Homo sapiens: one gene and its partners. The protein of the gene in region 2 purifies or fractionates together with the protein of the main gene of each other region. This does not show direct contact. Each region holds a gene or a part of one and is shown on either strand. Other genes may lie near its edges.

The links. The genes of interacting proteins can lie anywhere in the genome.
Region 1: the proteins of SLC18A1 (region 2) and ECPAS purify together in Homo sapiens (affinity purification with mass spectrometry; 2 studies listed by BioGRID and IntAct, with this or other methods). This does not show direct contact.
Region 3: the proteins of SLC18A1 (region 2) and EMC8 purify together in Homo sapiens (affinity purification with mass spectrometry; 3 studies listed by BioGRID and IntAct, with this or other methods). This does not show direct contact.
Region 4: the proteins of SLC18A1 (region 2) and FADS1 purify together in Homo sapiens (affinity purification with mass spectrometry; 2 studies listed by BioGRID and IntAct, with this or other methods). This does not show direct contact.

The regions. Positions count from the first base shown.
Region 1 is NC_000009.12:111,474,384-111,477,883, forward strand, and holds part of ECPAS (proteasome adapter and scaffold protein ECM29), read right to left. Parts: intron 1-3,500. UniProt on the Homo sapiens protein: Adapter/scaffolding protein that binds to the 26S proteasome, motor proteins and other compartment specific proteins. May couple the proteasome to different compartments including endosome, endoplasmic reticulum and centrosome.
Region 2 is NC_000008.11:20,162,637-20,166,136, forward strand, and holds part of SLC18A1 (chromaffin granule amine transporter), read right to left. Parts: intron 2,472-3,500; coding exon 2,411-2,471; intron 2,329-2,410; coding exon 2,233-2,328; intron 1-2,232.
Region 3 is NC_000016.10:85,793,045-85,796,544, forward strand, and holds part of EMC8 (ER membrane protein complex subunit 8), read right to left. Parts: exon of another isoform or gene 239-3,500; intron 1-238. UniProt on the Homo sapiens protein: Part of the endoplasmic reticulum membrane protein complex (EMC) that enables the energy-independent insertion into endoplasmic reticulum membranes of newly synthesized membrane proteins.
Region 4 is NC_000011.10:61,807,004-61,810,503, forward strand, and holds part of FADS1 (acyl-CoA (8-3)-desaturase), read right to left. Parts: intron 1-3,500.

The sequences.
Region 1 (3,500 bases), on a different chromosome or scaffold from region 2:
CCCTATTTTAGGGATTTTACATTATATTAACTCCTTGCCAAATCCACTTCCACTGTCCCAACTCAGACCCTAAGTTTCTTTTTACTTGGCCATTGTGATACCCTCCTAATTAGTCTTGCTGCTCTTGATCTCCGGATCCTTGCAATCAGTGTTACACCAATGCCACCTGTTACCCGTACAAAACAGACCTACTCATGTTACGCTCCTGCTTAAAAGCTCTGATGGTTCTCTACTGTCTACAGAACAAAGTCCAAACTAGTTCTGTTGGCATTCCTACAACATGCTGGTCCCAACCTATCTCCACAGCATCATCTGCTATTACATCCCACACCAAAAATAATAATAATTTATAAGAGCTTAAGTGTTTACACAGTACATTTTCACATACATTAATCCTAACAATACTATGAGTGAATCTTGTCATTCCAATTTTATGAGGAAGAAACTGAGACTTGCAAAGGTAAGGTAATTTGTCCAAGATCTCAAATCATAAAGGCAGCATGGGCCAAGTCTCAAACCACACAGCTGATCCCCTTTCCCAGTACTTCACACAGCCGTAGCACCCCCATTCCCATCATAACAGACTTACTCAGCTTTTTTTGTTTTGCATAATATTTCCCTATCTCCAAGTCTCAGCTCAAGCTATTTTTCCTTTAGCCTCAAATACCATTCTCATTTCTTGAGGTTTCCAAAGAACTGTGTTAGGCAGTTTACTTACCGTGCTTTGTGTATGTTATTTACATTTGCACATAAATCTGTCTCTGCACTGAATTATAAGCCCTCTGAGGACAGCACCATACATTATTTACTCAATTTTAAAAGTCTGCTTATTGAATTGAAAAAATACATGGGCAAAACAAGCCATATAAAATGGGAAGCATCAAGGCCAGGTCTGAAACGAGAGCTCAGCAACAGGGATCAAACCATCTGAGAACACTGGCAGTGACTTCAATTTTAACATCTATCTTCTGAACAAGGTCAATGCTCCTGTGCCAACTATTCTCACTGACAATGGCCTTGATCACATATTATAGTTTACTGAAAGCATAATTCAAAACAGAATGTGGTGGGCCAGGTGCAGTGGCTCAAGCCAATAATCCCAGCACTTTGGGAGGCCGAGGCAGGCAGATCACTTGAGGTCAGGAGTTCAAGACCAGCCTGGCCAACATTGTGAAACCCCATCTGTACTAAAAATACAAAAATTAGCCAGTTGTGATGGTGCACGCCTTGTAGTCCCAGCTACTCAGGAGGCTGAGACAGGAGAATCACTTGAACCTGGGAGGCAGAGGTTGCAATGAGCCAAGATTGTGCCTCTGTACTCCAGCCTGAGTGACAGAGTGAGACTCTAGTTTCAAAAAAAAAAAAAACCCAGAATGCAGTGAAAGTAAAAAAATCAGAATGGAAATTAATAAAAAATAGAAATATCCGTGGTCATTTTTCCATCTTAACTTTCCTATTTGGTTAAGTAACTAAAATTTAAATGATACAGGCTTGCCTTGGCCTTTCTACAAAGATCAGCTTGGAAGCCTGTATTCTGGTCATTTAAGCAATTAGCTCTTAGGGGCTATTTCAGTATGGTCACAGAATCATGTTCAACACACAGCTTCCCAAATCTCATCCTCTAAAAGAGCTACCAGGATTCCCAGCACTAGCAGAGGCTCTCTCAGAAGACACCTGACATGCTGATTATCTGGCCAACTTTTGCAACTGAAGTTTCCCATGGCTATGTCAAATGGTCAAATTGAATAGTGCATCCTTCAAGATTATAGGCTGTTGCTCCTTCATGAGTTGCCTTTATCCCAACGAAGATCAGATTCTAAGGATGCCTTATAATTATAAAGCCCAGAATACGAAACCACTAAACAGCTGACCAGGTGAAAAGTCTCAAATGCTTCCTTCCCTGTTGGAAATCTCTCAACCCACTCCTGAAATATTAACTATAATGTCAACTTTTCCATAAAGTGGCAGAAGATAGTATTAGCAGAAAAACTAGCCACATGTCTTGCATTGAATTTCATTTCATTTGCAATAGTTATAATCACTCTAAGCATAAGGAAAGAAAGCTACAGGCTCTGACCTAAACTAATTTACAAACTAGATTTCAGAACTGCCTTTAACAGTCAAAACTAATGGTTTTCTTTTTTGGCAACATACCCAAAAATCTACTATGTTCTGTTCAGTAACATCAGAATTTTTTTTTTTTTTTTTTTTTTTTGAGATGGAGTTTCACTCTAGTTGCCCAGGCTGGAGGGCAATGATGCAATCTCAGCTCACCACAACCTCCGCCTCCCGGGTTCAAGTGGGAGTCTCACTCTGTCACCCAGGCTGGAGTGCAGTGGCACAATCTTGGCTCACTGCAATCTCTGCCTCCCAGGTTCAAGTGATTCTCCTGCCTCAGCCTCCTGAGTAGCTGGAACTACAGGCGTGTGCCACCACAACCAGCTAATTTTTGTATTTTCAGTAGAGACAGGGTTTCACAATGTTGGCCAGGCTAGTCTTGAACTCCTGACCTCAAACCTCAGGAACTCTAAACCTCAGCTTCCCAAGTAGCTGGGATTACAGGCATGCGCCACCAGGTCTGCCTAATTTTGTATTTTTAGTAGAGATGGGGTTTCTCCATGTTGGTCAGGCTGGTCTCGAACTCCCAACGTCAGGTGATCCACCTGCCTCAGCCTCCCAAAGTGCTGGGATTACAGGCGTGAGCCACCGCGCCTGGTCCTTTTTTCTTTTTTTTCTTTTTTTTGAGATGGAGTCTAGCTCTGTCACCCAGGCTAGAGTGCAGTGGTGCGTTCTCAGCTCACTGCATCCTCCAGTTCCCAGGTTCAAGCAATTCTCCTGCCTCAGCCTCCCAAGAAGCTGGGACTACAGGTGCACGTCCCAACACCCGGCTAATTTTTTTGTATTTTTAGTAGAGACGGGGGTTTCATCATGTTGGCCAGGCTGGTCTTGAACTCCTGCTCTCAACTTATCCCCCAGCCTCGGCCTCCCAGAGTGCTGGGATTACAGGTGTGAGGCACCGCTCCAGCCCTGATTGCCACATCTTATACACTACAGAAGGTTCTTTCTGGATACTGCGCCTGGCCCCGATTGCCACATTTTATACACTACAGAAGGTTCTCTCTGGATACTAGTTAGACACACACACACACACAAAAAGCCATTTTGATCTTGTTATGAACTATATATTCTCCCATGCAGGACAGGAATAACACAGTAGTAGTAGGGCAGAATTAATACAAATTTTGCAATCAGAGAATCTAAGTTCAAGTCCTAACTGTCTAATGAGGGTAGCTCTACCCCTGAGACAGTACCAGTACCAAACTCACAGGGTTGTTCTGAGGATTCAATTAGTTGATACATGCAAAACAATTAGAACACACGGTAAACACACAATAAATAAACAGCTTTACTATTCTTCTATTATAATCACTGACTCAAACATGAGGTTTGTGAAAGGATAACAAATGCTAACAATAACAAGTCTCACCCCAAAATTAACC
Region 2 (3,500 bases):
TTTGTAACTGTATAACAAGGATGGCCTTTACTCTAGTGTCCAATACCTTGTTCCTCATTTCTATCTGAGACCTCGTCAGAATGACCTTCACTGTCCATATTTCTATCAACATTCTGGTCACAACCTCTTAACCAATGTCTAAAAAGATTCAGACTTTCTCTATAGCTCTCCTCTTCTTCTGAGCCCTCACCAGAATCACCCTTAATGCCTTAACCACAGCAATACAGGCTCTTTCTAGCCTGCTCCTCCAAATTATTGCAGCCTCTACCAATTTTCCAGTTCCAAAGCTGCTTCCATATTTTCAAGTATTTGTTATAGCAGCAGCCCGGTTTCTCATTACCCATTTTCTGTCTTAGTCCATTTTCTGCTGCTATAATATAACAGAATACCAGAGTGCATGATTTATCAATGAAAGAGATTTATTTGGCTCAGGGTTCTGGAGGTTAAGAAGTTCAAAGGCAAGCCTCTAGTGTCTGTTTGGCCACCTGGGGAGTGCCTGGTTGCTGGATCATAACATGGCCAAAGGGGGTCACATGGAGAGAGAGCACACATGAGAGAGATGTAAAGGGAGCTGAACTCCCCTTTTATTATGACAAACTCACTCCCATGATAATGGCCTTAATCCATTCATGAGGGTGCTCCCATGATCTCATCATCTCTCAAAGGTCCCACTTCTCAAGACTGTTGCACTGGGGATTCAATTTGCAACATATAAATTTTGGGGGACACATTCACACCATATCAGAGGTCAAAGAGGTTAAATAACTTATCCGAGGTCACAATCAGTAAGTGACGTGGTCAGCATTCAAACCCAGGTGGACCTGGGCTATTTCCTCCCCTTGGTGATGCTACCTAGTATATGGTGGGCCACATAGCAAGCACTCAGAGGCAGACTACACATTACTTTCAAAAGCATGGACTCCTTTGGCTCCCAACACCTTTGAGGGATGCTCTTCATGTACAGCAGCGATTTTCTAGGTGTGATCACTGACCAGCTATATTAGCATCACCTGCAGACTTACTAGGGATGAAAACTTGTTTTGACTAAATTGCCTACTGTCTCCCAGCAATCAGAGTTTTAACAAGCTCTCTAGGTGATTCTGATGTAGTTGTTGGACAACCTTTGATGTCAGACTTTACAGACCAGATAGCATTGAGAAAGCTGTAAAAGATGGTGGCAACTGAGTGACTGGTAACTGAGTAATTGGTAACTGGCAACTGAGAATGGTCCCTAGGCTGCTGGGGAGGAGCTGCTCTGTGTTGTAGCTGCTCACTAGTATCGAGACCCTGAGTGGTCAGAGCCTTAGGGCAGGCGATGAATTATCTGCACTGAATACCGACTAACTCAATTAATCGTCATGGTCAAAAGCACTTGCAACCCATAAAAATTCAATTTGGCACTAGGAGTGCAGCTGGGAGTCTTGCTTAGAATTGCCCCCCCAAAATTAGATTTAGTGCTTTTTATTGCATGCTGAACTATATCATGTTCTTATCAGCTTCCCCTCTGGCCCCGTAAGCCTCTCCTCCCTGCAGTGATGGAGCAATTTGCACGTAGCCTTCCCTGTCCTCTTTCCTCAGGGTTCCTGGGAAGGGCTAGATCCTCCTCTCCAAGCTCCTCTCTAAGTCGCTGCATGAACAAAGGAAGCTGGAACCCTCTCTCCTGGGCCCATAGCTTTTCCTAAGTGAGTGCTACATACACCCCTTTTTAGAGGTAAAAAAGATAACCAAAGGGTAGTCTTGAGGATGAGGAGCTGAAGGGAGGAGAATGTGGATGGTAATGGTGCACATTAATATTGTACAGGGTACAAAGCATTTTCACCTCATATGTCATTTATTCATCCAATTTCTCTTGAACTAGATAGTATTTTGATGCTCATTTTAGCAATGAGAAAAGTGATGCTCAGAGGGTTTAAGGCATCTGCACAAGTTTTCACAGAAAATCAAAGGAGCTGAAACCAAAACCTGAATCTTTGGACTGGAAATCATTAATCATCCTACTACACAGCTAGGTATGTGACCTCTCCATAGCCCCTTTCATCCTCTCTCACCCTCCCCTTTCTCAGACTGCTTCTCTGAGGGACCACACACCCTCTTGGGCTTGATTCATGGGTGTGGACGTGGGAGGTCATTCTACAAAGGAAGCATGTTGTCCCTGTGTGACATTGAACGAAAGGACTCATGGCACCCACCTCCTCCTGCCAGGCCCTGAGCGGGGGTGCTGAGGTCACTTACCCAGCTGCCACTTGGGGGAGCACATGGTCTGCATCATCCAGATGGGCAGTGTGGGCTCCAGGATGGCCACCCCCATGTTGGCAAAGCAGATGGACCCTGGGGAGACTGTTCTGTGAGCAGCCGTGGCTGCTTGAAGCCCAGACACTCCCCGCCCAATGGGAGGTCATCGCCAGCTTACCTGCAGCCACCAGGATGTAAGGGTCTTTGAGAAGCATAAAGAGGGGAGTCCCCTTGGCACTCTGAGAACATGGATAACAAAAAATGTCCATTTGTACAGTGCATACATCTCTCCTATTTTCACAGAATCTGAGAAAGTACAATTATGGGCTTAGAGACCATCTACAGTATCTCCTTTACTGCAGAGACCAGGAACCCCAGTACAGGGAGAGAAAGTGACTTGTCTGATGCCACAGAGGAAGCTGGAGGCAGGACCCCTCCTGTGTGAAAGGTAGGCACTGTAATAGTCACAGATAGAGAAGCAACATATTCCAGCCATGGTTCCTGCGTTCACGTGACCATCAACAAGGTCAGAGTGGATTGGTAGCAAGGTCAGGGTTGGACAATAGATGTCTGGACTCCTGGTTTCCACTAGATCTCCCTGGTACTAATATTTGTCCTGGGAGAACCACAGGCAGAGCACCGAATCCCAAAAGCAAGCACAGAAGCCATAACTCAGAAAGCCTCTCAAGCTTTCTGAATTCTTCATTCTGATCATTTTGAGCCACACTGAACTAAGGTAGAAGAAGCAGGGTTAAAATACAGCCTAAACATCCAGGACCCACTCTCGTCAGGACACACTCTCATCTAAACTTGGTCGCCCCACCCTCTTTCCAAGCATCCCAGCAGTGCCTCAGCCATCATTATTGCCTTTGCCTAAACTACACGTTCTGAGCTTCTCCATAGTTCCATGTTCTACCCACTCTTTAAAGTCAAGCTTAAATGGCTCCTTCTTTTCTAGAGAGCTCCCTGACTCAGTAGCTGGGGCTTCTCTCTCTTCCAGACATCCTGAACACTATGTCCTAATCCTTCATGGTGTTTACTACTTTCTATCTTGTAATAGATTGGATCATTTTGGTATGATAACCCTCTCTGCACACACACAATAGTGGATTGATAAATTTAGAGATCCTAAAACTAAAGAGATCATTCGCTTACCCAATTATTATTCGAAGTAAAGAAACTGATGTAAATCATTAAAATATACATTTAAAAGTACAATAAACCCTTTGACCCAACAGTCCCACTTCTAGGAATTGACTCTAAAGATT
Region 3 (3,500 bases), on a different chromosome or scaffold from region 2:
CTTGGCAGGAGTCTACCACCCTCTGCTCAATGTCCTTTTTGGCTGCTTCTGTTCCAGACATGGAAGAGAACTATTAAAAGGGCTGGGGCCACCCCTTTCATTCCCAACTAGACTCTTTGCACAGAGGCAGTAGCTTCTCACAGCAGCCTTGCTAAAATCTGCACTATCCCCCCACGCCCCTTGTGACTGTACAATAACCGTAAAGAAGGCGAGGCAGGGACCACAACTTGCCACTTACCAACAAGATGAGGGTAACCTGCTGAGCCTTCCTATCTGCAGCAAAAAGTAGGCCTTGGAGTTCAGAAGTAGAGCAACTGTTATTTTCACTGAGAAGGAAAGTTCCTTCTCAAGTCAGCTGCTGATCTTTCTATGGAATGAGAAGGAGTGGGAACCATGAAAGAAGAGCTTGGGAGGTCAATGGGACCGAGATAGAGGGTGAAGTTCAGGGGGAAGAACTCAAAGGGGGAACCACAGCATCCCTCTCCCCATCCCCAAGGTGGCACGTGAATGTTCTGGAGATGAACAAAGGGCAGGAGGGAGTAGGGGCATGGGAGAGCTCCAGGGCAGCCGCCGTGCAGAGGAGCAGAGGACAGGCCCACATGGAGGCCACAGCAAGAATTCTAGCCTGAAATCATGGTGATGAGGCCAGTGAGCAAGCCAGCAAGTCATCTGCGCAGAATGTAACAGAAAGCTACTCCACCGCACTAGAAATCAACAAGGGGAAAAGGGCAGAAAGGGATTAGAGAAGCGGGTTCAAGCTAATTTCCATACTAACATTTTATGGGTTTCTGCTATTAGGAATAATTCCTTCACTACCTACGTCAAAGGGTTATAAGGATAAATAAGTTAATAGGCGTAAGTACTTAAAAAAACATAAAAAGCATGCAAAAAGCATGCACAAATGCAAGGATTTTTTTAATGGAAAATAATGAAAAGCCTTTCAAAGGAATCTAATGTTGTCCTTTGATAGACAGTCTATGGTCTTTCCCCTTTATCAAAAACAATTCCAATAGGAAGCTCTCTGAATGGAACAGAGCCATGAGAACAAGGCCTCATTTACACAGCTGCATGGATTTAGATGCTTTGTGAAAACTGCATCTTCTATGGCTGATAACCTCATAAACTATGGCTCTAAACACTGAGAGTTTTCATTGCCTTCAGGTTAGGAAGTCACTAAGTCAAAAAGTGAATAATATAAATTTAATAGCTTAACTGAAGTACAAAATTTGTGGATGGACTCCAGCTGCAAATTTTCCCCTGTAACTTTCCTCTGAAAGTTATTTCATGGGCACTGGATTGCTGTCTTTTTCATATTTGCCCACTGCTGAGGGAATGAGTTTTTGTGAATATGAGAAAAGTCAGGGCTGAGTGCGGTGACTCACGTCTGTAATCCTAGCACTTTGGGAGGGCGAGGCGAGCGGACTGCCTGAGCTCAGGAGATCGAGACCCGCCTGGGTGACACGGTGAAACCTTGTCTACTAAAATAAAAAAGAAATCAGCCGTGCGTGGCGGTGTGCGCTGGTAGTACCAGCTACTTGGGAGGCTGAGGCGGGAGAATCGCTTGAACCTGAGAGGCCAAGGTTGCAGCGAGCCGACATCGCTCCACTGCACTCCAGCCTGGGTGACAGAGTGAGACTCCATCTCGGAAAAGTCAGTATAAATAACTATTGCCTGGCAAAACTTGCTGCTTGTTTTCACTGCTGAAGAGTAGTTACCGCAGGGAGTCAAGTGTGGACCTTACTTGCTGGATGGGGACTCATGTGGTGGGGGGAGGTGCTGGAGGCTGGATGTCTACAGTGCAGACTGTAACTAGGAATGAGGCGCGGGAGCAAGGTCAGAGTGGGCCCCTGCGGTGCCCGGTGCCCTCTCACGCTCAGGTAGCAGGCAGTCACTGTCCCCTCTGGGCATCTTTCCTCCCTGGTAAGTGGTTTGGGAGGCAGCCCTGCTCCCCCGTGGAAAATTCATGTACAGGTGACTTGAATGCAGTTGTTTATAGTTCCTGGGTTTAACTCTGTCAAGTACTGCATTCATATCCCATAGTCGGAACAGAAGTGTTTAACTCTGTCAAGTACTGCATTCACATCCCATAGTCGGAACAGAAGTGTTTAACTCTGTCAAGGTTACTTAAGAATGAGAAGAATAAGCAACATCTGACATTCCAAATGAGGTTCAAGTTTGTCTTCAAGAAGCTCCTAGAAGTTTCTGACAGGATTTTACATGGCCAGCAGCCACCACACCTTCTTCTCCCACTCCTGGGCTGGTCCTCAGTTGCTCTGTGACTCCTCCTCCACTCAACCCATAAAAGCCAGAGTGCCCCAAGCCACGTTCCTGGGGTGTGATGAGAGACACTGGTTTTCCTCCCCGTTCCTGGCTCCTCACGGCCCTGGTTAGTCTTTTGATAGAATGCCAGGTGCGTGAGCCTCAGGGGCGCTAGGACCCCACCTTCTCCTGCCCTCCTTCCACTCCACTGTTCCCTCTCCGCCTTTCTGACGGTGGGTCTTAAGACCTCCAGGAGAGGGTCCCCCCTAGACCTCGGGGGAAGGAATGCTGATGTCATGAAGCTCCCATAAAAACCCAAGAGGACGGGGAGCTTCCATGCCCCTTTCCCATACCTCGCCCTATGTGTCTCTTCATCTGTATCCTTTGCAGTGTCCTGTATAATAAACCCATAAACATAAGGTTTTCCCTGAGCTCTGTGAGTTGCTCCAGCAAATTAATCAAATCCAAACAGGAAGCCATGGAAACCCCACCTTGAAGCTGGTGGGTCAGAGGTTCCAGAGCCTGGACTTGCTGCTGAGCCCTCAACCCGTGGGCTCTGACACTATCTCCAGGTAGGCAGTGTCAGAACAGAATGCGGAGACACCTAGCTGGTGGCCGCTGCTTGGTGTGTGGGGAAACTCCTATACATCCGGTCACACAAGTCTTCTTCTGTGTTGACTGTTGGCGGTGAGAGCAGAGGACACACGCGGTTGGAGAGCTTTTCCCTACGCAGTCCTCAAGTGCTAAGACCTGCTCTCATGGCTTCAGAAGTCACCGGCACACCACTGGTTCTCAATCTACATCCATCTCTGGTCTCTGTACTCAGACCCATTCTTCACCTTTCAACCTAGGACTTCTTCATTTGAACATCTCAAACTTAACATACCCCAAACAGAAGTAATCACCTCCCCTCCAGACCTGTTTCTCTGCCTCTTCCCTCAACAAATGGCACCAGTGCACCATCGTCCCAGCGCACAAGCCAGGAACCTAGGTAACACCCTTACTTCCTTTTCCCCTAGGTCCATGCACGATTAGTCACCAAGACCTGTGGATTCTCCCACCTGCTCTCTCTTCTGTCCCCTTCTCCGTACCCATGCTGCACTCAGTTTTGCCACCTCCCTGCCTCTAGTCTTGGGTGTACTCCTGTCTCCAGCATCCTTTCTGCTGCAGGCTGGGGCCATCACTCGAAGGCACTGATCTGATCACGCAACTCTCCTCCAGTGGCTTCCCTCTGTCCTCAG
Region 4 (3,500 bases), on a different chromosome or scaffold from region 2:
GTGTTCATTCTCTTTGTCATGAGGTTTCCAGGCCCCACTGCCCTCTCCCCTTTCTCCCATCGTACTTTTTTGTTTATTTTTTAGACGGAGTCTCGCTCTTGTTGCCCAGGCTGGAGTGCAATGGCACGATCTTGGCTTACCACAACTTCTGCCTCCCTGGGTTCAAGCGATTCTCCTGCCTCAGCCTCCCAAGTAGCTAGGATTACAGGCATGTGCCTCCACGCCCAGCTAATTTTGTATTTTTAGTAGAGATGGGGTTTCTCCATGTTGTTCAGGCTGGTCTTGAACTCCCAACCTCAGGTGATCCACCCACCTCAGCCTCCCAGAGTGCTGGGATTACAGGTGTGAGGCAGTGCGCCCGGCCGCCATCGTACTTTTTCACACCAGAATCTCCATGGACAACCATATCTGCCCCTATACAGGTTAAGTATTCCCTCTATATCCAGCCCCTAATTCTCCCCATCAAAATCTTTTGGTCTCTTGACTTAAACATGAGCTTTATCAAATCTCCTGAAGGCTAATTCGAGTTTGGCAAATATTTCTGGAAAAGACACCAAGAACAATTTGGCAATCTGAAGGTTCCAGCAGTTTTCCCCAGTAGGTGGTGGTTATTTTTTATAAGCCGAGCTGCTGAAGAGACAGGCTGGGGCCACCATGTCAACCAGCCAGTCTAGAACCCCTGATGTGGGCTCACAAACAAGACAGCAAAGTTCTGCTGTCTCACTCCATGACTATGTCTGCATCGCACTCCAATTAGTTCAGGTAACCAGACAACCACAAGGGCACAAGAGGAGCACTCAACCCCTGAGCAGAGCTCTAGCTCACCCTTCCATGTGTCCACAGTTCATTTATTGAGAGTTTATTCTGTACAAGACACTTCAGCTAGATGAAACATCCTTTCTACATTAACAGATTCAAGTTCTTCAGCACCTACTGTGTGCCGGGCTATGTTCTAGATGCTTAGGATACAGAGGTGAACAATACAGACTTCCCACCCTCATGGAGCTTATAACCTTAGGGGATGAAGCTGGTGATAAATTTGTAAACAGAGACCGGGTGCAGTGGCTCATGCCTGTAATCCCAGCACTTTGGGAGGCTGAGGTAGGCGGACTGCATGAGCCCAGGAGTTTGAGACCAACCTGGGCAACATGGTGAAACCACGTCCCTACTAAAAGCACAAAAATTAGCCAGGCTTGGTGGTACGCACCTGTAGTCCCAGCTACTCAGGAGGCTGAGGCAGGAGAATCTCTTGAACTCGGGAGGCGGAGGTTGTAGTGAGCTGAGACCGCACCATTGCACTTCAGCCTGGGTGACAGAGCGAGACTCTGTCTCAAAAAAAAAAAAAAAGATCTGGGACCCAAAATAGCCTTTCTTCTCCCCGGCCAGCTATGAGGCTGAGGATGGGCTGCCTGTTAGTGAATGCCTGGGCAATAGGCTGCTTGGTTCCATCCCTCTGGGGATGTTGATGCCTGTGCTGACCCCATGACATCCACGTCAGTGCCTCCCAAAATTTTTGGAGGACAAGGAGGGGCAGGGGACACTGCCCTAAATAGAACCCTTCTGACCACCAAGGGTCTAAACATAATGGGACAAGTTATAGGGATCATAAAGGCATTTGCCATTCAAGGAGGAAGCAATGGATGGGGCTCCTTTCCATAACAGTTCCACAATAGGAAGCCCCCAAGCAAGGGCGCCCCTTTTTCAATTTTTTCCTCAGTTAATGTTGCTCGAGATGGGGTGATTCTCACCACCACATCCAGGTCCTCAGCAAGCGTTGCTTACACTGCCTCCAAAACATATCCCAAATCCATTGGCTTCACCTGCTCCTCCGTGGTCTGGTCTGGACTCGCTCCAGCCGCCTCACTGAGGTTATATCTGTGATTATACCTACCCTCTATAATTCATCCTCTCCACCTCCAGCCAGAGCAAGCCTTTTAAAGTGCAAAGCAGATTGCTGTACCCACCAGAAACCCTCCTGTGACTCCCCATTGCTATTGGAATAAAACCCAAACTTCTTACCACACCCTTACCATGGCTTTCTAAGGCCCTACATGATCTGGCCCCTCCCTAGTTTTCTGGTCTTCTCATTCTCTCATTGCTTACTGTCCCTGAACATCCGGGAGCCTCTGTACTTGACTGTTCTCTCTGTTCCAAATGTTCCTTCCCTGAATTTTTGCAGTGTTGGCCCTTTTCATCATTCAGGTCTCAGTTCAGATGTCGGCACCCGAAGGAGGCCATATCTGATCATGACTACCTCTCAGTTTCTGTCATATTTTACTGTTTTTAATCTGTAAGTTACGTTGAACTCTGTTTACAATTTTTTTTTGGTTTTAATCTTTTTAAAAAATTATTATTTTTACACACAGGGTTGCGCTGTTACCCAGGCTGGAGTGCAGTGGCGTGATCATACTCACTGCAGCCTTCACCTCCTGGGCTCAAGCGATGCTCCCACCTCAGCCTCCCAAGTAGCTGGGACCACAGGCACATGCCAACTGCGTCCCTTCATTCTCTGTTTTTGATGTCTGCTGATAGGAATTTCCTGAAAACCCAAGTACCAAGAAGCAATAAAGGTAGTGGTGTGAGACTGTTCCCTTCCACTTAACCTGCCCATGTCTTTTTTTTAAACCCTCTGTAGTGACAGTAGAAATGCACAAGCCCCATGCCACTGCCCAGCAAATAACCACACTGCCCTTGAAGCAGCCATGGGAGTCAGACGGGGGACAGGGCTGCTTCGTCATCTGCATAGTACTGACCATAATGGTATCGGACATGTAACAAACCCAAGTCCATGCTCATGATGGGAAAATAAGAACATTATGGACAGGTGGGGCATGAGCCTCAAGCTATGAGCTCCTCATGCCAGGCCAACCAGTGCTGCCAAAGCCCTTTCAAAGTTCTCATGGCCAGGGGCGAGAGGAACGCCAGGCTACCTTGAACTCATGCCTAGAACTGAAATGTGTTTTAACGACAATTTAATTCCTCGCAAGCTGAAATGTCACAAAGTGGAGGAGGTGGACCTGGAAGAACTCTGCAGCCTACAGCCTTGGGACAAAGGGCTTTAAATGAACTTTTCAAAGAATTCTGCTGGCCTTTTAGAACCTTCCATTGCCTAATGCTCACTAAAAGCTCACCAGATCTCCACCCCCAGGCATTATTCCTTCAGCAGCTACATTATTTCTGCTTACAACTTCAGACGACATCTCAAACCCAACGCTGACCACCCAGGAAATCAGGCTGGGGATCAGCAGGGTGGGAAGAAGTACTCAGTGAATGAATGTTCCAGATATTGGACATGAAAGAAGAGTAAGACAGTCCAGCCCTGGACAGAGAAGACTGTGACAAGAAGGATACCTAAGTGTGGGAGAGAAATACAAAGTGCAAGGGGAATACTTGCCTGGGGCAAGAGTGTCAAAAAAGCACCTCCAGGAGGTGCCATCAGCACCTTCAAGGATAGGCTATCTCATCATTTGGATCCTTCTGGTCATCCGCTGGATCCTTTG